Linked DNA regions of Homo sapiens: all the other regions are linked to region 3. The links come from fine-mapping of genetic effects on gene expression. A gene starts in region 3. Each other region holds a variant in brackets. All regions are shown on one strand. Distances are from middle to middle. Region 1 overlaps NPHS1 (NPHS1 adhesion molecule, nephrin). Region 2 holds the start of LINC01766 (long intergenic non-protein coding RNA 1766). Region 3 holds the start of APLP1 (amyloid beta precursor like protein 1).

The links. PIP is the estimated chance that this variant, and not a neighbour inherited with it, causes the effect.
Region 1: its variant is the best candidate, but not a certain one, in a credible set for the expression of APLP1 in esophagus muscle (GTEx, PIP 0.66).
Region 2: its variant is the best candidate, but not a certain one, in a credible set for the expression of APLP1 in sensory neurons (Schwartzentruber 2018, PIP 0.68).

Annotation. Positions count from the first base shown.
Region 1 is chr19:35,846,219-35,851,218 of GRCh38, reverse strand. NPHS1 (NPHS1 adhesion molecule, nephrin) reads left to right here. Exons shown (of 29, transcript NM_004646.4): 4 at 130-258; 5 at 774-855; 6 at 1,566-1,669; 7 at 1,856-1,983; 8 at 2,072-2,243; 9 at 2,425-2,582; 10 at 2,822-2,966; 11 at 3,054-3,178. Among named protein-coding and RNA genes, the nearest start is that of NPHS1, 3.8 kb to the left of the region's middle. RefSeq lists an enhancer at 1-69 and a silencer at 2,934-3,109. The variant C/T (reference allele first, on the strand shown) is at 2,736.
Region 2 is chr19:35,587,577-35,598,076 of GRCh38, reverse strand. It overlaps LINC01766 (long intergenic non-protein coding RNA 1766), which reads right to left and starts at 182. Exons shown (of 3, transcript NR_110750.1): 1 at 120-182. RefSeq lists an enhancer at 1,286-1,425. The variant A/G (reference allele first, on the strand shown) is at 5,106.
Region 3 is chr19:35,861,274-35,870,857 of GRCh38, reverse strand. It overlaps APLP1 (amyloid beta precursor like protein 1), which reads right to left and starts at 2,284. Exons shown (of 17, transcript NM_001024807.3): 1 at 2,075-2,284; 2 at 1,048-1,191. The coding sequence starts at 2,221. KIRREL2 (kirre like nephrin family adhesion molecule 2) reads right to left here. Exons shown (of 15, transcript NM_199180.4): 10 at 9,217-9,317; 11 at 8,834-9,053; 12 at 8,261-8,365; 13 at 7,822-7,931; 14 at 6,145-6,210; 15 at 3,722-4,701. The coding sequence ends at 4,366. It overlaps LOC107985317 (a long non-coding RNA gene), which reads left to right and starts at 1,501. Exons shown (of 4, transcript XR_001753932.2): 1 at 1,501-1,766; 2 at 2,728-2,983; 3 at 4,265-4,371; 4 at 7,857-7,943. RefSeq lists silencers at 2,044-2,113, 2,204-2,463 and an enhancer at 9,218-9,584.

The sequences.
Region 1 (5,000 bases), 17 kb after region 3:
GCCCTCCCCTACCCCGCAACCCGGAAGTCCAAGCCCCCAGCCTCTCCTCTCCCAGACTCTGGGTACCGAACTCCAATCTTCAAGTCCTTCTCAGTGCTGGAAGCTTACCCCAGACCCTTCTCTCACCAGTTCCTCCCAAGCTGCTCCTGCTGACCCCAGAGGCAGGCACCATGGTCACCTGGGTAGCTGGGCAGGAGTACGTGGTCAACTGTGTGTCTGGGGACGCGAAGCCAGCACCTGACATCACCATTCTCCTGAGTGAGTGTGGGTGAACTGGGTGGCAGGGGGCAGCATGAAGCCTCTGGAGTGGGAAGGGTGTGTGTTCCTGACCAGTACCCTTCTAAGGGCCCCAGAAAAGATGTCATCCCTGGGATGGGGACCCAGGAGAAGGTGTGGGGAGATGCTGAGGCCAGTGTGGGACCCAGTGGATGCGAGGGCACATCGAGGGCGGCAGCAACCAGCACAAGGCTGAGGCCCAGATAGAAATATGGGCAGTAGCGCTGGTGCAGACATGAGAAGCTGAGGGATAGGGTGCATGGTACAACCCAGCAAGGAGTTGAGAAGAGCGGGGAGGCCCAGGACCCAGCACTGAAGACTGCGGCATTCAGGCAGTCCAGAAAGTCGGGAGGGGATGCAGCTCTGCCCCAGGCCCTTTTCCTCTAGAACGAGGAGGGAGGGGGCATCGCACCCACCCTGAGGACTTCCAGGCCATGCTCCCCAGAATCTATCTTGCGGGGAGCCTGGAACCCCTCTAGCCCTCTTGCTGCCCCAAGGTGGACAGACAATATCTGACATCTCTGCAAACGTGAACGAGGGCTCCCAGCAGAAACTCTTCACTGTGGAGGCCACAGCCAGGTGTGGAAACTGAAACAACCCCCCAACCTTGACCCCTAATTTTCCCCATGGGAACCCCAGACCCCAGGGATGCAAGCATGAAGCTTGGGCTAGGTATGAACATCTGGGACCCAATTCTTCATCCTGACTCTCAAAGCTTCTTCATGGGGAACAGAGGTGGTGGCTCATGCCTGTAATCCCAGCACTTTGGGAGGCTGAGGTGGGCGGATCACCTGAGGTCAGGAGTTCAAGATCAGCTGGGTCAACATGGTGAAACCCTGTTTTCACTAAAAATACAAAAATTAGCCGGGTGTGGTGGCGCATGCCTGTACTCCCAGCTCCTCAGGGGGCTGAGGCAGGAGAATCACTTGAACCCAAGAAGTGGAGGTTGCAGTGAGCTGAGATTGTACCACTGCACTCCAGCCTGGGTGATAGAGCCAGATTCTGTCTCAAAAGACAAACAAACAAATAAACAAACAAAAAAACTTCATGGGAACCTCAGTTCTAGAGTCCCAAGCACTAAAGTTTTGGTCAGATGTGGGGCTCTCTAGGCTCCAATTCTCACTGTTCACCCCCAAAATCTCTCCCATGGAACCCTGGATCCCAGAGGAGATCAGCATGGGGACTTAGACCAGGTGTGGGGACCAGAGGTGACATCCCCACCTCTTCTCCCTGACTCCCCAAATTTCAGATGATGACTCTGACTCTATAACCCTGACTTCTCATCCCAGGGTGACACCCCGGAGCTCAGATAATAGGCAGTTGCTGGTCTGTGAGGCGTCTAGCCCAGCACTGGAGGCCCCCATCAAGGCCTCATTCACCGTGAATGTTCTGTGTAAGTGGAGAACTGGGCCAACTAGGGCGCTGAGGATGGGGAGCAGGCACTGGGGGGTGTGGGGGGATCACAGGGATTATGGAAATTCAGGCACTCAGAGAAACATGGGGGTTCAAAGGCAGGTTGTGGGGCCTGGAAAGAGTGGATGGGCTACTCCAGGCCCACTGAGTGACTGATATCCCCCAGTCCCTCCAGGACCCCCTGTCATCGAGTGGCCAGGCCTGGATGAGGGGCACGTGCGGGCAGGACAGAGCTTGGAGCTGCCGTGCGTGGCCCGAGGGGGTAATCCCTTAGCCACACTGCAGTGGCTGAAGGTGAGGGCAAACGCGGGCATGGGGAATGGGGGGACAGTGGGGTCTGGGAGCCAGTCCTGAGCTGGCCCAGGCCTGTCCCTGTCTCCAGAATGGCCAGCCGGTGTCCACAGCGTGGGGCACAGAGCACACCCAGGCGGTGGCCCGCAGTGTGCTGGTGATGACCGTGAGGCCAGAAGACCATGGAGCGCAGCTCAGCTGCGAGGCCCACAACAGCGTGTCTGCAGGGACCCAGGAGCACGGCATCACACTGCAGGTCACCTGTGAGTCCTGGTGCCAGCTGCCCCCCTGTCGGTCTGTGCCTCAGAGAACCATCTGTGTGTGCCCCCAAATTATGCCTACTGGATGCCAAAGATCTCAGCATCTGTCTCCAGTCCTGTTCTGTCTGGGCTGGTCTGTGAGAAATCCAGCCCAGCTTAGTGTCTTCCTTCTCTGTCCCTGCAGTTCCCCCTAGTGCCATTATTATCTTGGGATCTGCATCCCAGACTGAGAACAAGAACGTGACACTCTCCTGTGTCAGCAAGTCCAGTCGCCCGCGGGTTCTGCTACGATGGTGGCTGGGCTGGCGGCAGCTGCTGCCCATGGAGGAGACAGTCATGGATGTGAGGCGGGGGCCAGGCTCCTGGGTCTGAGCATGGAGGGGGCTGAGGGCATGACTCGTGGATAGGGAAGGGGTGGGTCCAGCAGCCTGGGGGGCTTTCTCCTTGAGGACCATGGGTCCAACAGAGGGGGAGGTAGAGATGTCTCCTGTGTCC[C/T]TGCTGGGGACTGGGATGGACTCAGGCCTCTAGCACGATGGATAGGGGTGCTGCAGTCCCCACGTCTGAAGCTCACTCCCTGCCAGGGACTGCATGGCGGTCACATCTCCATGTCCAACCTGACATTCCTGGCGCGGCGGGAGGACAACGGTCTGACCCTCACATGTGAGGCCTTCAGTGAAGCCTTCACCAAGGAGACCTTCAAGAAGTCGCTCATCCTGAACGTAAAATGTGAGCCCCTGCCCTGGCCCAGCAATGCCCCCAAGCCTCAGGACCCAGCACAGAGAAAAAGTCATTCTTCCTTCCTCTCCCCGCCAGATCCCGCCCAGAAACTGTGGATTGAGGGTCCCCCAGAGGGCCAGAAGCTCCGGGCTGGGACCCGGGTGAGGCTGGTGTGTTTGGCTATCGGGGGCAACCCAGAGCCCTCCCTCATGTGGTACAAGGTTGGTGCCACGCCAGGGCTATGGGGGTGGCCAGGAATGTGGGGGAAGGACCAGGCCCCTTCTCTCCTTCAGAATCTTGGGCAATCTTGGAAAAAGATTAAATTTCTTGAAAAGTACTAAAGATTCTGAGGTTTGGCAGGGAATCAGGAAAGACACAAATGCTATGAGAATTAAATGGAATCCTAGGAAAATTCTGGGGAAACAGTGAGAATTTTAGGATAAAAATTGGAATTCTGAATCAAGATTAGGCATTCTAGAGAAAAGGTAATTTCATTAAAATTAAAGAAAATTCTAGTGAAAACCCTCAGAATTCAGGTGAAATGTCAGGAATTTTAGGGAAAGACTTGAATCCCAGAAAAAAAAAAAAAACAATGCTGTAAAATTTGGCTGGGCACAGTGGCTCACGCCTGTAATCCAAGCACTTTAGGAGGCCGAGGTAGACGGATCACCTGAAGTCGGGAGTTAGAGACCAGCCTGACCAACATGGAGAAACCCTGTCTCTACTAAAAATACAAAAAATTAGCTGGGCATGGTGGCGGGGGCCTGTAATCCCAGCTACTGGAGAGGCTGAGGCTGGAGAATTGCTTGAATCCGGGAGGCCCAGGTTGTGGTGAGCCGAGGTTGTGCCACTGCACTCCAGTCTGGGCAACGAGACCGAAACTCCGTCTCAAAAAAAAAAAAAAAAAAAAAAAAAAAGGCTGGGCACAGTGGCTCACGCCTGTAATCCCAGCACTTTGGGAGGCTGAGGCGGGCGGATCACGAGGTGAGGAGATCGAGACCATCCTGGCTAACACGGTGAAACTCCGTCTCTACTAAAAATACAAAAAATTAGCCAGGCGTGGTGGCAGGTGCCTGTAGTCCCAGCTACTCGGGAGGCTGAGGCAGGAGAATGGCGTGAACCCGGGAGGCGGAGCTTGCAGTGAGCCGAGATCGTGCCACTGCACTCCAGCCTGGGTGACAGAGGGAGACTCCGTCTCAAAAAAAAAGAAAAGAAAAGAAAAGAAAATTTGGAGAAAAGCTAGTAATTCCACAGACTATCGGAAATTCATTAGTATTAAACTGAACTCTTGGGATTTGGAGGCAAGAAAATGAAATTTCATTAAAATGAAAGAGAAGCCTAATAGAATTCTAGGAGAATCCTGGGAATTAGGGAGCTAGTTGAAAACTTTGGGGGGAAGACTAGAAATTATAGAAATGACAATGGAATTTTATTTTAATTGGATGGAATTCTGGGGAAGTGCTGAGAATCTGGGCAATACAAAGGAATCTGTTAAAAGACTGGGATCATAAGATATTATAATATCGGGAAAGATTCAGAAATCTATGGAAAGTTTAATTTGTGCAGCAGCAATAATAAAAAAAGGAAGTAATCTATGGAAAGACACTGGAATTAAGGAAAATTTCAAAGGAAATCTTTGGGGACAGCAGGAATTTTAAGAAAAGGAACTGAGGAACTCTGGGAAAGGCCTGGGAATTTCAAGGGAGTTTCCTGCAGGTGGTGTTGGGTAAACACAGCAGAAATAGATTTTGAGGAGTGCGCTGAGAGCCTGCAGGTGGCTGCAGAGGCAGAGCAGGAGTTGGGTGTGGGACAGAAGGCGGATTCAGATCCCCAAAACTGCCATGCACAGGGACTCGGGGAGGCGGGAGAGACTCCAGGGAGGGGGTCACTCAGTTCCACTCCCCACTGCTTTGCCCTAGGGGGGTGGTGCTGATGAGAGTGCTTCTCCTTATCAGAAAAAGGCTTTGTTTGGGCTGGCGGCACCAACCCAGTGGGCAGGGTAGGGGGGTTGGGGGTTGGTGGAAGCGGCAGGGCTGCCTGCGA
Region 2 (10,500 bases), 270 kb after region 3:
CCTCCTTGCCCCCCACCTTTATGTCATTCACATCAAGCCCCCCTTTAAAAGTCCCTGCTTTCTGTCCTGAAAGCTGAAGCAATACCCTTAAGGCAGGAACCTGTACCTCTTCCCCTCACCTGAGCTCTGGAATAAAGTCACCTTCTTTCTACCAGAACTTGCTCTTGTTAATTGGACTCTGCAAGCGTGGAGTGACTGGACCTGTGTTTGGGTATAAAACCTTCATTATAAATTCACTGTTCCCTTATAAAACTCTCACCCTGTAAAACTTCTTTGTCTTCTGTTTTTTTTTTTTTTTTTTTTTTTTTTTCAGAGACAGGGTCTTCTCTCCCAGGCTGTAGGAGTGCAAAGGCACAATCATAGCTCAGTGCAGCCTCAAACTCCTGGGCTCAAGTGATCCTCCTGCCTCAGCTTCCTGAGTGGCTGGGACTACAGGTGCACACCACCAGGCCCAGCTAACTAAAATTTTGTTTTGTTTTGTTTTTGTTTTGCTGGGTGTGGTGGCTGACGCCTGTAATCCCAATACTTTGGGAGGCCGAGGTGGGCGGATCACCTGAGGTCAGGAGTTTGAGGCCACCTTGGCTAACATAGTGAAACCCCGTCTCTACTAAAAATACAAAAATTAGCCGGGCGTGGTGGCACGCACCTGTAATCCCAGCTACTTGGGAGGCTGAGGCAGAACTCGGGAGGTGGAGGTTGAAGTGAGCCAAGATCCTGCCACTGCACTCCAGCCTGGGTGACACAGCGAGACTCTCTCAAAAAAAAAAAAAAAAAAAAAAAATTTTTTTCTTTTGGTAGAGATGGGGTTTTGCTACAATGTTGCCCATGCTGGTCTTGAATTCCTGGGCTCAGGTGATCCTCCCACCTCTGCCCCCCAAAGTAAAACTTCTGTTAGCTCTCTCACTGTTCCTTTTATAATATCCTTTACTTCGTCCCTATGAATCCTGCGGGGTCCTGCTGTAAACCTTTCCTGTTCGCCCATAAGCTCCCTGCCCCTTTAGCTCCTCTAAGACCTTATTTGACCACCTATTCACTCCTCTTGCTGGGACTATAGGCGCCCGCCACCACGCCCGGCTAATTTTTGTATTTGTAGTAGAGACAGGGTTTCAGTCTCTACTTCTTTGTCACCTTACAAAGTCCTGCCCTGTCTCCCTCTAACACCTCTCAACTTCTGAAACCAGCTTTCTGACTCTTTGAACTCCCTCTCCAACCACGTACAACAGCCTTCCTGTTCTAAACCCGTGCCCTTGTGACATATGTCTGTGTCCACTTATATCACCCCTGAGGTTCCTTTATGATACCCTTTCTGCTCTCATCATTTCCCCTCTACTCTAACACTCCTCCTCCTACTCCTGCCCTCCTGGAACATTCCCAGGAGGGCACCTAGGTCTGGCACTATGCTCTTCCTTGATCACCAACCACAGGGGATTACCATGGCGGCCAGGCAGGCCCCGCCTCCTAGCCTGTCTCTCTACTTCTACTGGCCAATTGGAGGTGGTATGTCATAGGGTGGGAACCAACACCTGGCTTCTGATTGGTTTGATGGGGTGACAGCTCCTTCTACTCTCTCAAGTGATTGGCCAATTGAGGAATCCCTGGTTCCACCTTCAAAACAGACCTATAAATAAGCCTCATTTCCTTGATCATCTTTGTTTAAAGATTCCTCCTGAGCATCTTGAGAGAAAAGCACTACTTGGGGCAAGAGTGATGTAGGCCTCGGAGTCTTGTGTTTCAGGAAAAACACAATGCATTTTCTCTGCTCTCATACCACAACAGTCAACACAGAAGAGTTCTTTGATCAAATGTGTGGGTTCCCCCCTTTTTCCCCACCCCCTCAAGCCCCTCCAACACCAAGCAAACAATCATTTCTTTTCTTCCTTCCTTTCCTTTCCTTTCTTTCCTTCATTCTTTCCCCCTTCCCTTCCCCTCCCCTCCCTTTCCCTTTCCCCTTCCCTTCCCCTTCCCCTTTCCCTTTCCCTTTCCCTTCCCTTCCCTCTTTTCTTCCTTTTCCTTCTCTTCTTTCTTTTCCTTCTTTCTTCTTGCTCTGTCTTCCAGGCTGGAGTGTGGTGATGTGATCTTGGCTCACTGCAACCTCCGCCTCCTGGGTTCAAGTGATTCTCCTGCCTCAGCCACCTGAGTAGCTGGGACTACAGGTGCGCACCACCATGCCTGGCTAATTTTTTGTATTTTTAGTAGAGACGGGGTTCTGCCATGTTGACTAGGCTGGTCTCGAACGCCTGACCTTAAGTGATCCGCCTGCCTTGGCCTCCTAAAGTTCTAGGATTACAGGCATTACGCCCGGCCTACTTCTATTTTTTAAGTTTTTAATTTTTTTATTTTTTGAGACAGAGTCTCACTCTGTTGTTCAGGCTGGAGTGCAATGGCGTGATCTCGGCTCACTGCAACCTCCGCCTCCTGCATTCAAGTGATTCTCCTGCCTCAGCCTCCCAAGTAGCTGGGATTACAGGCACCTGCCACTATGCCTGGCTAATTTTTGTATGCTTAGTAGAGACTGGGTTTCACCATGTTAGTGAGGCTGGTCTCGAACTCCTGACCTCAGGTGATCAGCCCATCTTGGCCTCCCAAAATGCTGGGATTGCAGGAGTGAGCCACCGCGCCTGGCCTACTTCTATTTTTTTTAAGACAAGGTTTTGTTCTGTTGCTAGTCTGGAGTGTAGTGGTGTGAACACGGCTCACTGCAGCCTTGACCTCCTGGGCTCAAACAACCTCCTGCCCCAAACTTCTGAGTAGCTGGGGCTACAGGTGCAAGCCACCATGCCAGGTTAATTTTGAAATTTTTTGCAGAGATGGGGTCTCACTATGTTGCCCAGGCTGATCTTGAACTCCTGGGCTCAAGTTATTTATGTATGTATTTATTTGAGACAGGGCCTCACTCTGTCACCCAGGCTGGAGTGCAGTGATGTGATGATGGCTCACTGCAGCCTCGACTTCCTGGGCTCAGGTTATCCTCCTGCCTCAGTCTCCCAAGTAGCTGGGACTATAGGCGTGTGCCACCACACCCAGCTAACTTCTTTGTATTTTTAGTAGAGACGGAGTTTCACCATGTTTTCCAGGCTGATCTCAAACTCCTGGGCTCAAGTGATCCACCCACCTCGGCTTCCCGAAGTGCTGATATTACAGGCATGAGCCTTTGAACCTGGCTATTTTTTTTTTTTGAGATGGAGTCTCCCTCTGTCGCCAGGCTGGAGTGCAGTGGTGCGATCTCGGCTCACTGCAACCTCTGACTCCCTGGTTCAAGCGATTCTCCTGCCTCAGCCTCCCTAGTAGCTGGGATTGCAGGCATCCGCCACCACGCCCAGCTAATTTTTGTATTTTTAGTAGAGACAGGGTTTCACCTTGTTGGCCACGATGGTCTCCTGACCTCGTGATCTGCCTGCCTTGGCCTCCCAAAGTGCTGGGATTACAGGTGTGAGCCAACGCGCCCGGCTCTGGCTATTTTTTTTTTAAGTGCATTATGAAAATATTTTATAACTTGTGTGTTTAGATCATGTGCCTTAAATATGATTATTGGTATGTTTTGCTTTAGGTCTACTATTATTTGTTTTTTATTTCCACTTTTCTGTGTTTTGTTCCTTGTTTTCCCTTTTCCTTCTTTCTTTTGGATTATTCAAATACTATTTTAGTACTCCATTTTAATTTATTTATTGTGATTTTCACTATATATCTTTGCAAGTTTTAAGTGATTGCTCTACGGATTATGGTAAACACACTTAAACATTCTATAGTCTACCTAGATTGAATATTTTGCAACTTCAAGTGGAATATGGAAAACTTCCACCATATTGGTCCCTTCATTGTCTCCCATGTATGCGTTAGCTTTCACATGCATTATAAAGACATGTATTGAAAATACATCCGTCCAGGGCTGTGGCTCACGCCTGTAATCCCAGCACTTTGAGAGGCTGAGGTAGGTGGATCACCTAAGGTCAGGAGTTCAAGACCAGCCTGGCCAACATGGTGAGACCCCGTCTCTACTAAAAATACAAAAATTAGCTGGGCATGGTGGTGGGCGCCTGTAATCCCAGCTACTAGGGAGACTGAGGCAGGAGAATCGCTTGAACCCAGGAGGTGGAAGTTGCAGTGAGCCAAGATCACACCACTGCACTCCAGCCTGGGTGACAGAGTGAGACTCTATCTCCAAAAAAAAAAAAAAAAGAAAAAAAAAAAACGAAAAGAAAAACGCCAGGCACGGTGGCTCATGCCTGTAATCCCAGCACTTTGGGAGGTTGAGGAGGGCAGATCCCGAGGTCAGGAGATCGAGCCCATCCTGGCTAACAAGGTGAAACCCCGTCTCTACTAAAAATACAAAAATTTAGCTGGGCGTGGTGGCGGGTGCCTGTAGTCCCGGCTACTCGGGAGGCTGAGACAGGAGAATGGCGTGAACCCGGGAGGCGGAGCTGGCAGTGAGCCGAGACCACACCACTGCACTCCAGCTTGGGTGACAGAGTGAGACTCCATCTCAAAAAAAAAAAAAAAAAAAAAAACCCTCCCAAAGTGCTGGGATTACAGGCGTGAGCCACCATGCCCAGCAGTCATTCCTTTCAATGGCAAAAACCGCAATTATTTTTGCATCAACTACACACACAGACACACACACACACACATATCTCATGTCACCTGCAGATACAGTTTTATTTCTTCCTTTCCAATCTAAATGCCTTTTTTTCTTTTTTGAGACAGAGTCTCACTCTATTCCTCAGGCTGGAGTGCAGTGTTGGTGTGATCATAGCTCACTGCAGTCTCAAAGTCCTGGGCTCAAGTGATCTCCCTGCCTCAGCCCCCTGAGCAGGTAGGACTACAGGCATGTGCCACCATGCTTGGCTAATTTTTTAATATTTTTTGTAGAGATGGGGTCATGCTGTGTTGCCTAGGCTGGTCTTGACATCCTAGTCTCAAGTGATCCTCCTGCCTCCCAAAGTGTTAGGATTACAGACGTCAGCCACTGCGCCGGGCCCTGTTTGCGTTTTTTTCTTGCAGTGACTAGAACTTCCAGCACTATGTCAAATAGGAGTGTCAAGAGCAGACATCCTTTCCTTGTTGTTGATCTTATAGGGAAAGTATTCCATCCTTCATCATTAAATATG[A/G]TATATATTTGGTGTGTTTAAATCTATTATTGTTATTACTATTATTATTATTATTATTATTTGAGACGGAGTTTTGCTCTTGTTGCCCAGGCTGGAGTGCAATGGCGCCATCTCGGCTCACTACAACCTCCGACTCCCGAGCTCTAAGCGATTCTCCTGCATCAGCCTCCCGAGTAGCTGGGATTACAGGTGACTGTCACCACGGCTGGCTAATTTTTATATTTTTAGTAGAGACGAGGTTTCACCATGTTGGCCGGGCTGGTCTCGAACTCCTGACCTCAATTGATTTACCTGCCTCAGCCTCCCAAAGTCCTGGGATTACAGGAGTGAGCCACCGCGCCTGGCCGTTATTAATATTTTTGATGTTTAAGTTGTACCACTCTGGGCCAGTGGGCGCTCCTTCAAGTTAGCTTCTATGTCGAAAATAAAAATGATTTGTTAAGAGAAAGGTAAGTGATTAACAAGTGACTCCAGCAGGTAAAAAGATTGAATTGCTACTAACGGTCGATGGGAGGCAGTGTTGTCCACCTAGTGCTTAAGAACACGGCTTTTGGTGGCAGATTTCCTGGTTCCCAATCCTGGCCCCTCAGTGAATTCGCTGTGAGACCTGCACTGTGTCTTTCCAGCTCCCTGTGCTTTATCCTCAGTCTGTAAGAATGCAGGCTATAGGGTTAGTGTGGAGACCAAAAGAATCAATACTCCGAAGCTGCTCATAACAGTGGCTTGTACTTGACTCCGAGAGTTGCTGCTTTCACCATCATAGTGAAGACAAAGTACTCAAAATCTGCTACACGAAAAAGATTACAGGCCCAGAAGATTTTGCAGGCATGTTCACTCCAACTTTTTTTTTTTTTTTTGGAGATGGAGTTTCGCTCTTGTCACCCAGGCTGCAGTGCAATGGCGTGATCTTGGCTTACTGCAACCTCCGCTTCCCGGGTTCAAGTGATTCTCCTGCCTCAGCCTCCCGAGCAGCTGGGATTACAGTTGTGTGCCACCATGCCCAGCTAATTTTTGTATTATTAGTAGAGATGGGGGTTTCACCATATTGGCCAGGCTGGTCTCGAACTCCTGACCTCAGGTGATCCACCCGCCTCAGCCTCCCAAAGTACTAGGATTACAGGCATGAGGCACCATGTCCGGCCCACTCCAATCTTTAAGAAGCAGCTAATTCCCATGACATAGAAATGTTTCCAGAACACAGAAACACATTGAATGCTTCTCAACCCATTCTGCATTGCCAGCACTGCCCCAATGCAAAGGACTGAGAACAGCCCCCAGATGAAAACTATGTAGGACCCAAATAAGGCATAAGCAAACCATATCCATCACATATTAAAAGAATAATAGAGGCCGGGCATGGTGGCTCACGCCTATAATCCCAGCACTTTGGGAGGCTGAGGCGGGCGGATCACGAGGTCAGGAGATCAAGACCATCTGGCTAACACGATGAAACCCCGTCTCTGCTAAAAATACAAAAAATTAGCCGGGTGTGGTGGTGGGCGCCTGTAGTCCCAGCTACTCGGGAGGCTGAGGCAGGAGAATGGCGTGAACCTGGGAGGCGGAGCTTACAGTGAGCCAAGATCGTGCCACTGCACTCCAGTCTGGGCGACAGAGCAAGACTCTGTCTCTAAAAAAAAAAAAAAAGAATAATAGATTGTGACCCAGTAAGGTTTTCCCAAGAGTATAAGAATGGTTCATTGTGAATAACTTTGTTAAAGGATTGAATTAAAATCTCGTATGATCATGTTAATAGATGCTGAAAAGTATTTAATATGATTCAACACAAATTTTTTTTGAGACAGGGTCTCGCTGTGTTGCCCAGGCTGGAGTACAAGGGTGTGATCATGGCTCACTGCTGCCTCTAACTCCTGGGTTCAAGTTATCCTCCCATCTCAGCCTCCTGAGTAGCTGAGAATACAGGTACCATGCCTAGCTAATTTTTTTTTCTTTTTTCAGTAGAGACGAGATCTAGCTATGTTGCCCAGGCTGGTCTCAAATTCCTGGCCTCAAATGACTCTCCTTCCTTGGCCTCCCAAAGTACTGGAATTACAGGCATGAGCCACTGTGCCTAGCCTCAATATAAAATTCTAATTTAAAAAATCTTGGCAAGCCAGGAATAGAAGAAAACATAACAAAATTGATGAAATTTTGGCTGGTCACGGTGGCTCATGCATGTAATTTCACCACTTTGAGAGGCTGAGGCAGGCAGATAATTTAAGGCCAGGGGTTCAAGACCAGCCTGGCCAACATAGAGAAATCCCATCTCTACTAAAAATACAAAAAATTAGCCCCGAGTGGTGGTGCGTGCCTGTGGTCCCAGCTACTATAGAGGCTGAGGCACTAGAATCGCTTGAACCTGGGAGGCGGAGATTGCAGTGAGCTGAGATTGTGCCGCTGCACTCCAACCTGGGTGACAGAGCCAGAGTTTGCTTCAGAAAAAAAAAAAAAAAAGATGAAATTTTTATCAGAAATCTACATCAACTGCCTGACTTAATAGTAAAACAATAGAACTAACCCATACAAGGATGGAAACAAGATTATGATGCTAATTCATATTTTGCTGAAAGGTTTAGCCCAGGAACTAAAAAAATACATATATAATGAGGTATTAAAATTGTTAAGAAATAATTCAAATTTAGCATAGACAATGTAAGTGTGTAAAATGATGAATTATTACACCAAGAAAGTTCAGTAAGTTTGCCACACAAGATATCAACATTGGAAACTCAATACCTTTCTTCTACCCCAATAATAATTTAGATTATGTAATGGAAAAAAGGATTGCTTATAATACATAAAATAAAGCTAAAGATGTACAAGTCCTATTTGATATATCATATTTATGAATAGGAAGGCTTATCATAAAGATGCTAAATCTCCCAAAACTGATAACTAAATTGATTGTAATGCAATCAAAGTCAGATAAGATTTTTTTTTTTTTGAGGTTGAGTCTCACTCCTTCGCCCAGGCTGGAGTGAAGTGGTGCAATCTCTGCTCACTGCAACCTCCACCCCCGGGTTCAAGAGATTATCCTGCCTCAGCCTCCCGAGTAGCTGGGATTACAGGCACGCACCACCACAGTGGCTAATTTTTGTATTTTTATAGAGACAGGGTTTCACTATGTTGGCCAGGCTGGTCTCGAACTCCTGGCCTCAGGTGATCCTCCCACCTCAGTCTCCCAAAGTGCTAGGATTACAGGTGTGAGCCACTGCACCCGGCCTTATTTTTTACATTTATTTATTTTGGAGACAAAGTCTAGCTGTGTCCCCCAGGCTGAAGTGCAGTAGTATCACTATGACTTACTGCAGCCTCAAAATCCTGGGCTAAAGTGATCCTCTCACCTCACCCTCCTGAGTAACTGAGACTACAGGCGTGTGCCACCACGCCTGGCTAATTTTGAAAAATTTTGTAGAAAAGAGTTATCTATCGACTTGCTGCCTAGGCTGGTCTCAAAGTCCTGGGCTCAAGCCATCCTCCTCTCTCAGCCTCCCAAAGCATTGAAATTACAGGCACGAGCCACTGTGCCTGGCCTCGTTTTGTGTTTACCTGGTGCTAAATACCAGTTGGATACCCGAGAGTGAAATTCAGGTTGGATGAAGTCTGGGAGCTGAAGTGGAGGAGGCTGGCTGGCTTTCCAAGGCCTGTAGCAGAAGGTGACACTTGGGTCTGCCTGCTGATGTTGACATGGACCATCCTAACCTGACATGGCTTTGCAGCTGAATGTGACAGGCCCAGCCTGGGCTGGATCTGGAGAGGGACAGGGATGGCTAACCCTCTAGATCTGCTAACATGACAGACAATTAGGCATCATCCTATCTGCAGGCATCCCCATAACCCAGAGCATTGTCCCACAAACACATGAGATCTGCCCAGACACCCAAGCCCACAGAGGAGACAAACTCAGCATCACAACAATTACAATTAAGGTGGACTAGGGCCTTTGTTGTTTCCTTCTATTATTATTTCCTATAGACCACCCAACAAGATGGATGTCTCTGTTGGGTATGAACTTGAAGCTGTAATCCCAGATGTGCAAGAAATAGAACTCTATTCTCCTGCATCTGCACTGGTTTGGGTGGATTGGGCTGTGGAAACAGGCCAAGCATGTCATTTGTCAACATGGTAGTCTATTTTCTGCTTGACCACATGAGGCAGTTGGGGGAAGGGAGGCTGTTCCTAGAATGGTTCAGGGACCCAGGCTAATGGGGGCTTTGCCACGTCTACAACATGTGGCCTTCTAAATCATCACATGGGTATCCCTTGCCCCGTTGGCCGGGGGAGGAGGAGTTTAGAGGAGTGTCCCAGGAGACATTGAAAAGCCAGGTTTGTTTGTGGTACATGTCAGTTCTGCTCACATTCCACAGGACCAAAGCACATTTCATGGCTGCAGAGGGGAACCTCTGAGACGTGGCCAGGCAATGTTCCCAGAACAAAGAGGCGATGGGCTCTGGGGGACAGTGAGCAGTCTCTTGCCCAGCAGCTCCATTGACTTTCTACTGAGAATCCCCATTCTCCATGGTGGTGGAAACTTAGTTCTGCTAAATATTGTGCTAAATATTCATCTGGTTCTGAACTTGGGGTTGTCCATGAAGCTTGGGCATCAGAGGCAGCCCCGGGGTGTCTGTGGCCCATGGTGTCAGTCTAGATCTCTGTTTTGATTCATGCACGATGGCTCCCTGCTTATCCCTAGTTTTCCTCTACAGTTCTGTCTCCACCTGGCACTTGGGATTCCTATGGAACCCACCTTCTTCTCACTAGGCTGGGCCATGGGGTATCCTCCTTGGCTGTCTGAGGTCATTTCTTTGTAAATGTCTACACCATGTAGCATATCTTCTTTGAGAACTTGGAGCCTCTCTAGGCCTTATCTGTGAGGAGGGATTATAGATAACAGCTGGGGTCTCTGACGCCCCTCTTCCTCAGATGCAGATTCCAGGAACCTTATGGATGTACTATTGTCTAATCTCTCTCTACATTCCCTTTTCCATGAATGGGGAACCAATGCCTTTCTGGAGGGGGGAGAGGTGGTCTTCATCAGCTATTCTGCCAAAGCTATTTGCATTTCTTGAGGACTTTCCATTCTTCTCCTAAGAGCTTGACATTTGGATGTCAGAAGCTGGAAGAGGTTTCTGTTTTCTTATTGCTGCTCTGAGACACTAGACATCTCCAATCCCAGCTCAAATGAGAAGACCCCTAGAGAATAAACATCAGTTCAGATTTCTAAATATCATCCCCACATTGGCAATTATGCCTGCTTTAGAGACAAAGGAACTATGCTCAAGAAAAGTATCTGTTCAGGGCTATACAGTTTTTCAGTGTCAGAGGTAAGTTTTTAACTGACATCTGCCTGAATTCTATGTCTGTGGGCTTCCCCATTGGGACATTCTGATTTTCACAG
Region 3 (9,584 bases):
GCCCCTGCCAGCCACCCCTCTCCAGTAGTCAGGTCCCTTTTCTCTTTCTTTCTCCCTCTTTCTTTCTTTCTTTGAGACGGAGATTTGCTCTTGTCGCCCAGGCTGGAGTGGAATGGTACAATCTCGGCTCACTGCAACCTCCTCCTCCCAGGTTCAAGCGATTCTCCTGTCTCAGCCTCCTGAGTAGCTGGGATTACAGGCACGCACCACCATGCCAGGCTAATTTTTGTATTTTTAGTAGAGACGGAGTTTCGCCGTGTTGGCCAGGCTGGTCTCGAACTTCTGACCTCAGGTGATCCGCCTGCCTCGGCCTCCCCAAGTGCTGCGATTACAGGCGTGAGCCACCGCGCCCGGCCAGGTCCGTTTTCAAGGCTCTAGTATTCATGAGGACATCGCTTCCCTAGGCCCTGCTTCTCCCTAGCACCAGCCTTAGATATCCAAGCTCCTTGTGCTCATTGGCCACGCCCACTAGCAGTTTTCCCTTAAAAGTCCCGTCATCTTTAAGCCCTATCTCTTTTCCTGTGCTGTTTCTTTCTGAAGGTCCCTCTAAGCCCACCTCTCTGGTCACCCCTCCCCGCAGTCAGATTCGTCTCCCCAAAGGTCTCACCCTCCTTTAGGCCCCGCCTTTTCCTCTATTCCGCCTCTCCAAAACTCTCCCTTCCCGTTATAAATTTGTCTTTTCATGGCCACGCCCCCCCAGCTCTCCGCGCTCTCATTGGGCTCCACCCCTTTCCCCATCTTGCTGGTCCTTAAGGTCTCTTTCTGTCTTAGCCCCGCCTATCCTTTCGCCACTCCCCCCTACACCTCTACTCTTTACAAAGACCACCAGATTCCTAAATTCCACTTCCTCTCTGGCTATCTCGCGGCTCTCCCCTTTTCCTGACTTAGTATCTCAAAACAGGTCCCCTGCCCCTAGCATAGTTGCGCCTCTTTATTGGCCACGCCCCCCAGCCTCCACGCCTTAGATCGCGCAGCACCCTGGACCACGCCTTTTTCAAGTCTAGCTTTCTATGGGCGGCCCCGCCTCTCCCGTTCGGCCCCGCCCACCTGTCTGCAGTACTCCAGCACGCGCTGCGGGTCCCGGAGACAGCGTCGAGAGCGCTGTGGGTCTGGTTCCCAGCGGCCGGTGCGCAGGTCCCGGTGAAGGGTTAGGCGCCCGCATAGTCCAGCCACCTGGGCCGACCCCGGGGCCTGGATGGAAGTGGAAAGGACAGTGAGGGCTCGGGGGGCGTTGGCATGAGGGTCCCCTGGTTCTTTGCTCCCTAGGACCGAGACCCCCAGCACCAGCCCCCTCCCCCAAGCACCGCACACCGCCTCCATGGAGGCACCGTTCCCTGGGAAACAGCTCCCGTAGGGCGGGGGCGCCCCAGCGCTCCCGTTGCTATGGCGACCTGGGTCCCCCGGGATTCTTTCTGCCTTGTTGCCGCGGAGACAGACTCCGCCCCCACCCCAGCGCAGCCGCTCTGGAGCCCGAAGGGGTTAAACCTGAATCGCGGAGGAGGAGGCCAGAACCCAGGAGTTCTGGCCCCTCCTCCCTCCATCCCTTGCTCAGGCTCCCGTTGCAGGATGCAAAGCTGACAAGGCCTGGCTTCAGGGGCCTACAGTCCTGGACACCAGGTCCTTGAGGACTGGAGAGCTACATCTGGTTGGGGTGGGTGGTGACTGAAGGACTGGACTCCTGGGTCCTGGGAGGCTGCAAGGGCCTCCATATGGGTCCAGAGAATACAAGGGGTCTGGATTATTGGATCTAAATGCCTCGCTGCTTGGTGGGTCCTATGTCCAGGCGGGAGGGGGTTGGGGCCGAGTCACCTGGGTCTGGAGAGGGGGCTGGACTTCTGGGACCAGGGGCTCTGAATAGACCAGTTCCTATGCTCGAGATGGGAGGGGGCTGGGACGTCGCATGATGGGGGAGCTGGGGCCTGGAACCCTGGGTTCATAAATGTGATTGGGGGCGCCTGGGGGCTGACCACCTGGCTGGAAAGACCGCGCTTTCTGCCCTGGACATGTCCGCGCCGGCGTCCAGAGACCCGGTCCCGCCCCTTCCCCCATCCCCCAGGACCCGGCCCGGCCTCACCTCGGCCGCGCCGGGGCTCCCACCGGCCAGGCTCCCGATGGCGGGCTGCGCGCGCAGAAGCAGCAGCAATAGTGGCAGCAGCAGCGGCAGCGGCGGCTGGCCCGGGCGGCGACTTAGACCGCGAGCAGCGGGGCTGGCGGGCCCCATGTCCCGGCCCTTGCGCCCTCACGTCCCCTGCACTCCCGCCCGGCCCGGCCCCAGCGGTGACAGGAGCTCCCAGCGCCACCGCCGCCACCTCCTCCTCCCGCCGCCCCCGGGCTGCGCCGGCGCCGCCAGCCCCGCCCCGCGCCGGCCCCGCCTTCCTGGTCAGGACAATAGCGTGGCGGCTTCGCGCAGAGTGGAGCAGCTCGGGAACCCCGGGCGGGAGCCTGCGCCAGGCCCCCGCCCCTCGAGATTCCAGGCGTCCCGCCCCATGAAGGGCCCAGCCAGGAGTCCGGCTATGGGCTCCGCCCGTTGTGGATTTTGAGTCCTCCCGCAGGACTCTCACCCTCTTTAGACCCAGACACTCACAGTTTTGTCCTTTTCCAAGGATGCAAGCATCAGAGACCCCCATCCCCTAGTACATTCCTCTGTTGAGGGCTCAGGAATACAGGCCTCCAAAATGTCCCCAGTCAAGAAGGCAGCAGTTGAGACCTAGTCCCTTCCTCTTTCAGATCCAGAAGTCTGGGCACCTTCTCTCTCAGGACCAGAGACCAAGCCCCCAGCCCATTCTCCTTCAGACCCAGGAGTTCACTCTTCTTGCTCTGCTTCCCAAGGGTCCCAGGGGCCTGGACCTTTAACTCCTAGCTCAAGGATCCATGAACCAAAGCCCCCAGGACCTTTCTTTAAGGATCATCCAAGCAGGCACCAGCACCATGCCCACTGTGGATGCAGCACCTCAGGATTAGGGTCTGGATCTCCACGCTTGCTGTAAGGACCAGGGGATTGCCATTTTCCTACCCATAGTCTCCCCTTCCCTGCTCCACTTCAGGGCTCACTTGTTTGTCTCCTCTAATGAGAGTTAGAATTCAGTCTTCCCCAGGACCCCTGGGGCAGCCCTGTCACTTGTGTGCAACTGTGTGGACATCTATGCGTGTGTCTGTGCATACATGCCTATGTGTGTGTCTTTTCTGTTTGCAACTCATGTGTGTGTGTGCGTGTGTGTGTGTGTGTGTGTGTGTGTGAAGATGTATATTAAAAGAGCCCATGGCTGGGCACAGTGGCTCATGCCTGTAATCCCAGCACATTGGGAGGCCTAGGTGGGCGGATCACTTGAGGTCAGGAGTTTGAGACCAGCCTGGCCAACATGGTGAAACCCTGTCTACAAACAAATACAAAAATTAGCTGGGTGTGGTGGCATGCACCTGTAGTCCCAGCTACTTGGGAGGCTGAGGTGGAAGGATGGCTTGAGCCCAGGATGCAGAGGTAGCAGTGGGCTGAGATCATGCCACTGCACTCCAATGTGGGCCATAGAGCCAGATCTTGTCTCAAGAAAAAAAAAAAAAGAGCCTAGAGTGCTTTGCAGGTAGCAAGAGGCTGAGAGGTGGCTCACAGTTTTACTCCTACAGCCACCTCATAGGCTAGGGTAGAGGAGGGACCTTGGGACAGGTCTAAGGGACCCCTTCCTTGGTGGAGAGTGATAATGCCAGTAGACTCCCTAAGACACACTTGCCTCTTTGACTTTTTTTTATTATTAAACATAAATATTTTTATCCCAATATTTTGCCCCAACAGTGGTAATTCTCACTGTATCCCCACTCCTTGGGTCCAAGTCTTTCTGAGTCTTTAAGGAAAGTAAAATCAAGATGGTGGCCATCTTGGGTTCCTAGGGAGTATATGGCCATCTTGGCTGCATTTCCATTGGCCGAGCAAAGTTCCCCTCAGGGAGAGCCAGGGTGGGGCCTGGTATGCTCTTCATCTTCATCTATCCTATGCTACCTTTCCTCTCAATGCAGATGGTCATCTTGAAATATCTTCTTTCAGTGGCTAGAAACAACTTCCATCCCGGCCCCAAACTCCCAACACCCACTGCCCTGTCCCCATCTCTCCTCAAAGGGCCTACCTGCCATCTTGAATCTCTTTTACACCGGGGAATAGGTGGGCATATTGGGTGGCCATGTTGCTCCCACTTGGGGCATCTCCTTTGGCTGAGCTGACTGTATACAAATGCTCCTGACAAATGTAATGATCTTTCCCTCCCCTTGTGTTCAGTTTTGGAGGAGTAAGGTCGCCAACTTGTCCTGGCTCCTCAGAAATCAGAACAATCCATTATGGCAAGTTGGAGATCCCAGGACTCTTCCATTGGAAAGATGTCACACGTGAGTCTGGAGACGCGGGTGGCTAGGTGTGGGGAAGGCAGCATATGGGAAGGGGGGAGTCCCGGGGGCCAGATCTGGGGGCCCAAAGGATGTGGGTTTGATGTAGCTGGTGAAAGCTCGAGGGTGGGGTGTGGTGAGATAGCCTGCCCTGGCTCTGTAAAGTCTGCAGGGGGGGACCATGCCCAGGTGTGGGTTGAAGTCATAGAAGGTAGGGGTCCCTGGGGGCCCAAGGGGGGAGGGTGGTGGCAGGAAGAGACCTCCTCCAGGGGCTTCGCCAAGGCTCAGGCTCACACTGACTCCTCGGACCTTGTAGTAACCGTTGGTTGGGTCCTGAGGGGACAAATGGGACTCAGTAAAGTCTGTGAGCGTGCAGGGGGGATGAGGGTCACTGATGGAGAGACACACTGAAATAGACCAGACCTTGAGAGAGACAAAAAGAGACAGGAGTGGGCAGAGACACAGAGACACACATGGACTGGGAGAGAGAGAAAGTGAGACAGAGGAACAGTGATAAGAGGCAAATGGATAGGACATAGGCAGAGAAAGGTAGAGACGGAGGGATATAGGCCTGCTGAGGGGTGTCGGTGTGGAAGGTGCAGAGGGAACAGGAGAGAGACACTCACCTGCCCAACAGCCTCTAGGCTTTGATTCAGTGTCACACCCTGTGTTGCTGCTACAAGGCATGTCACTAGGATAGAACTGGACCCTGTCCTCACAGAATCCCACACCAAAGGAAAAATGACAGATCATGAGACAGTACCCAGAGGGGTCAGGGCTGTGCCTGGGAAAGGCATAGGCAATGACAGGGGCTGTGATGGTAGAGCCCTCAGCATAGTGGGTGGGATAAGGAAGCCCAGATCAGAGTGGTCATGGCTGTGATGGGTGGAACACAGGCAAAATGATCGAGCTGTCATGACGGAAGCATGGGCTTCCTAGAACAAGAAATGTCTGAGCTGAGACTGGAGGACTAAAGGAAGGAATTAGGTAGACATGGGAAGGAAGGTAGGAGTGTTTCAGGCCAAGAGAATGGCATGTCGGCTGGGCACAGTGGCTCACGCCTGTAATCCCAGCACTTTGGGAGGCTGGGGCGAGCGGATCACTTGAGGTCAGGAGTTCCAGATCAGCCTGGCCAACATGGTGAAACTCCATCTCTACTAAAAATACAAGAAAAATTAGCCAGCTATTAGGGAGCCTGAGGCAGGAGAATGGCTTGAACCCAGGAGGCAGAGGTTGCAGTGAGCTGAGATTGCACCACTGCACTCCAGCCTGGGCAACAGAATGAGACTCCGTCTCAAAAAAAAAAAAAAAAAAAAGAAGAGAGAGAATGGCATGTGCTAGGTACGCAGGAGAGAGAGAGAGAGAGAAGTGCTCTGGCCTGGGGATGGCCTGGAGTCAATGTGGCTGTCCTGAGGTAGGACCCCAGAGGAAGAACCAGTCTGGGGAGATGTGGGGCCAGTGTAGGACCTGGTGGCTGAAAGGGGGCTTGACCGTGATGAGGAGAGCACAGGCAGGGTGAGCCCTGGTCTGGGGCTCCAGATGGAGGCTAGGGCTGGGACAGATGTGTGGGAAGAGTCTGCAGACAGGCAAACTGAGGCTGGGAGCTGAGTGAGATGGCCCAGGGGGCAGGAGGAGTGGGGTGGGGAGCTGAGTCCCAACTCTGAGGACAACAGAAGGAAAAAGGAGGGGACAGGCGTGGGAGAGAGACGGAAACACAATGAAGGGAGCCCCGCCTCTCCCAACAGTGAAGGGAGCCCCACCCCTCTCAACACTCACCTTGGTCTCCAGAGTCCCTTCCTCCTCCAGAACCAGATCACTGTGGTCAGTGTGCACAATGGGGCCCTGGGGTAGGGAACTTAGTGAGAGGGAATAGTCAGAGGATCCCCCCGCCCCAATGCCAGACCCCAAGGACCTTCAGCCAGCCAGTGGAGGCCAGGCAGGAGGGAGTAAGAGCACCCAAGAGCTGGGGACTGCACTCAGGACAATAAAAGGGCTGTAAGAAGCCAGCACAGTGGCTCATGCATGTAATCCCAGCACTTTGGGAGGCCGCAGCAGGAGTATCACTTGAGGCCAGAAGTTTGAGACCAGCCTGGCTAACATGCCGAAACTCTGTCTCTACTAAAAATGCAAAAAATAGGCAGGCATGGTGGCAGGCACCTGTAATTTCAGCTACTCAGGAGGCTAAGGAACGAGAATCACTTGAACTGGGAGGTGGAGGGTGCAGTGAGTCTGGATTGCACCACTGCATTCCAGCTTGGACGACAGAGCAAGACTCTATCTCAAAAACAACAACAACAACAACAACAACAACAAAAACGGGCTGTGGGGACATACTGGGCCTAGGGAATAATTGGGTCAGGGGCATGGACTTGGGTGACATTTGGGTGTGGGGTCACTGTTAAGACTAGAGCCCTTGGCCGGGCGCGGTGGCTCACGCCTGTAATCCCAGCACTTTGGGAGGCCGAGACGAGCGGATCACGAGGTCAGGAGATCCAGACCATCCTGGCTAACACGGTATACACCTCGTCTCTACTAAAAATACAAAAAAATTAGCTGGACATGGTGGCGGGTGCCTGTAGTCCCAGCTACTCTGGAGGCTGAGGCAGGAGAATGGTGTGAACCCGGGAGGTGGAGCTTGCAGTGAGTCGAGTTCGCGCCACTGCACTCCAGCCTGGGCTACAGACCAAGACTCCGTCTCAAAAAAAAGAAAGAAAGAAAAAAAAAGACTTGAGCCCTCAGGCCGGGCGTGGAGGCTCATGCCTGTAATCCTAGCACTTTGGGAGGTCGAGGCGGGTGGATCACCTGAGGTCAGGAGTTTGAGACCAGCCTGGCCAACATGGTGAAACCCAATCTCTACTAAAAATACAAAATCAGTCAGGCGTGGTGGTGGGCGCCTGTAATCGCAGCTACTCAGGAGGCTGAGGCAAGAGAATCACTTGAACCAGGGAGGCAGAGGTTGCAGTGAGCCGAGATCGCAGCACTGTACTCCAGCCTGGGTGACAGAGTGAAATTCTGCCAAAAAAAAAAAGACTAGAGCCCTCCTACATAAAAAAAAAAAAAAAAAATGGAGACAGGGTCTTGCTCTGTAGCCCAGGCTGGAGTGCATGGTGCAATCATAGCTCACTGCAGCCTTTACCTCCTGTGCTCAAGGGATCCTCCCACCTCAGTGTCCTGAGTAGCTGGGACTATAGGTGTATGCCACCATACCCGGTTCATTTTTTATTTTATTTTAGTTTGTATTTTTGTAGAGATGGGGTCCTGCTATGCTGTCCAGGCTGGCTTTGAATTCCTGGCCTTAAGTGATCCTTGTGTCTCCACCTCCCAAAGTGGTATTACCAACGTCAGGCACCATGCCTGGCCTTAGAGTCCTATTTGAATTTGGGGACCCTCTTGGGACTGGGCTATTATTTAGGTCTGGAGGCACAGTCAGGTCTGGGGACCCTGGCATCCTACCCGGTCCTCGCGGCTGCCTGTCTCCTCTTCTTCAGGACCTCGTGAACTGGAGCCGTCGCTGCTGCCAGGGATTCGCATCAGGTTCTTTTGCTCGGAGAAAGAGGCTGAGGCTGACAAACAGCGACCGGTGGAGTTAAGCGATGGGCGGGGTCACAATGTGTGCAGACCAATAAGCGGGAAGAGAGAGGACTGGGAACCAATGAGGCTGATTGGGTAGGGCTGTTGGAAACCAATAAGAATCATTCCCACCGAGGAGTGTGACCCTGGGAAGGCCTAGTTAGGGCTTAAGGAGGGAACCAGAACGTGAAGGAGAGCTAAGCCCTGTGCAGAGCTGGAAATGGGACTGGAGCCAAGGCCCAAGGCCAGGTCAGGTCACTGGGCAGGCAGGGCGCGTGTGGGGCTGGGGCCTCGGGAGCCGGGGCGGGGCTCAGGCACTAACCCTTGCTGTGGCGCCAGCAGCAGAGGGCCACCCCAGTGATGACCATAAGGAGAGTTGTGGTGGCAGCGGCCACTCCGGCCACTATCCGCACAGTGGGCAGCAAGTCTGCAGGGAGCAGAGGGGACATCCTGAGAAGGCTGAGGGGGAACCAGGAAGCGGGGGCTCAGGGATTGAGTTTGGGATTCCTGGGTTCAAAAGGTCGCACATTTGAAGATTCAAAGGCCCTTGAATTTGGGGTTCCCCAAGTTTGAGAGTGAGTTTAAACTCCCTGGCTTTAGGGAGTCTTAGAATTTGAGGGGTCCTTTACTTTGCAATTTGCTTTGCAATCATTGGAGTTTCCCTTTTTGGGGCCCCTAGGTGTGAGGAGTCTCTCAGTTTAGGATTCAGAATGTGAAGGCATTTGTGGTTGAGGGGTGTCTTGGGAATCAATGAGCCCACAGTTTTGAGACTCCCGAGGTTTGGAGGTCTCCTCTGCATTTGAGGGTATGAGGTTTTGCAGCCCTCGGCTGGGGGATCCCTGCGTTTGTGGGGTTTAGACTCTCCAGATTTGGGGTCTTCGGGCTGGGGTCTCACCTCTACGGCCCAGGCTGGCCTGGGCACCTCCCTCGCCCAGCCGGTTCCGGGCACTGCAGTTAAAGCTCCTGCTAAAGTCAGACTCCTGGGTCCCCGAAATGTGTAGCACAGAGATCAGGCCCGGACCCAGTCCCCCGCGGCTCTCTGGGGCAGGGAATGTCTCCACCAGGAACCGGCCCTGCGACCCCGCCTCCAGGAAGCCCTCATCCCAAGACCAGACCTGGGGGCACAAAAGAGGGAGGACACGGAGGAGACTGAGGAGGGGAGGAAGAAGCAGGAGGGATGTCTGGGAAGTCAGAAATGGTCACAGTAGTTTCGGGGGGCCAGGTGGGAGGTCAGGGATCACGGCTGGATGGGTCACGGGAGGAGTGACATTTCCTTACCACGGCATCTGGGGCGGGAGAGGCGAAAACCAGACACTGGAGGCGAGCAGGGCCCCTCAGGAAGGCAGGCGCAGAGTGCAGGGCGGTCACTACTGGGGGAGCTGGGATGGAGACTGTAGGTCACTCAGAGGAGAGGTCTTGCCCTCCCCAAAGGCTGTAACAAAGCCGGGTCTGTCCAGCGCACTCTCCGCTAACCTCAATCAATCAGGCCACGCCGCCTCCAAACTCCGATTCTCCTAAAAGCCTCGCCTTCAATAGGTCCGGTCTCCAGCCCCCGCTGGGTGTAAAGCTCCTTCCAGGCCACTCCCACTGCATTAGCCCTTGCCCCCTCTGTCCGCTCCCTATCCCAGGACGGGCCAGGTCCCCTA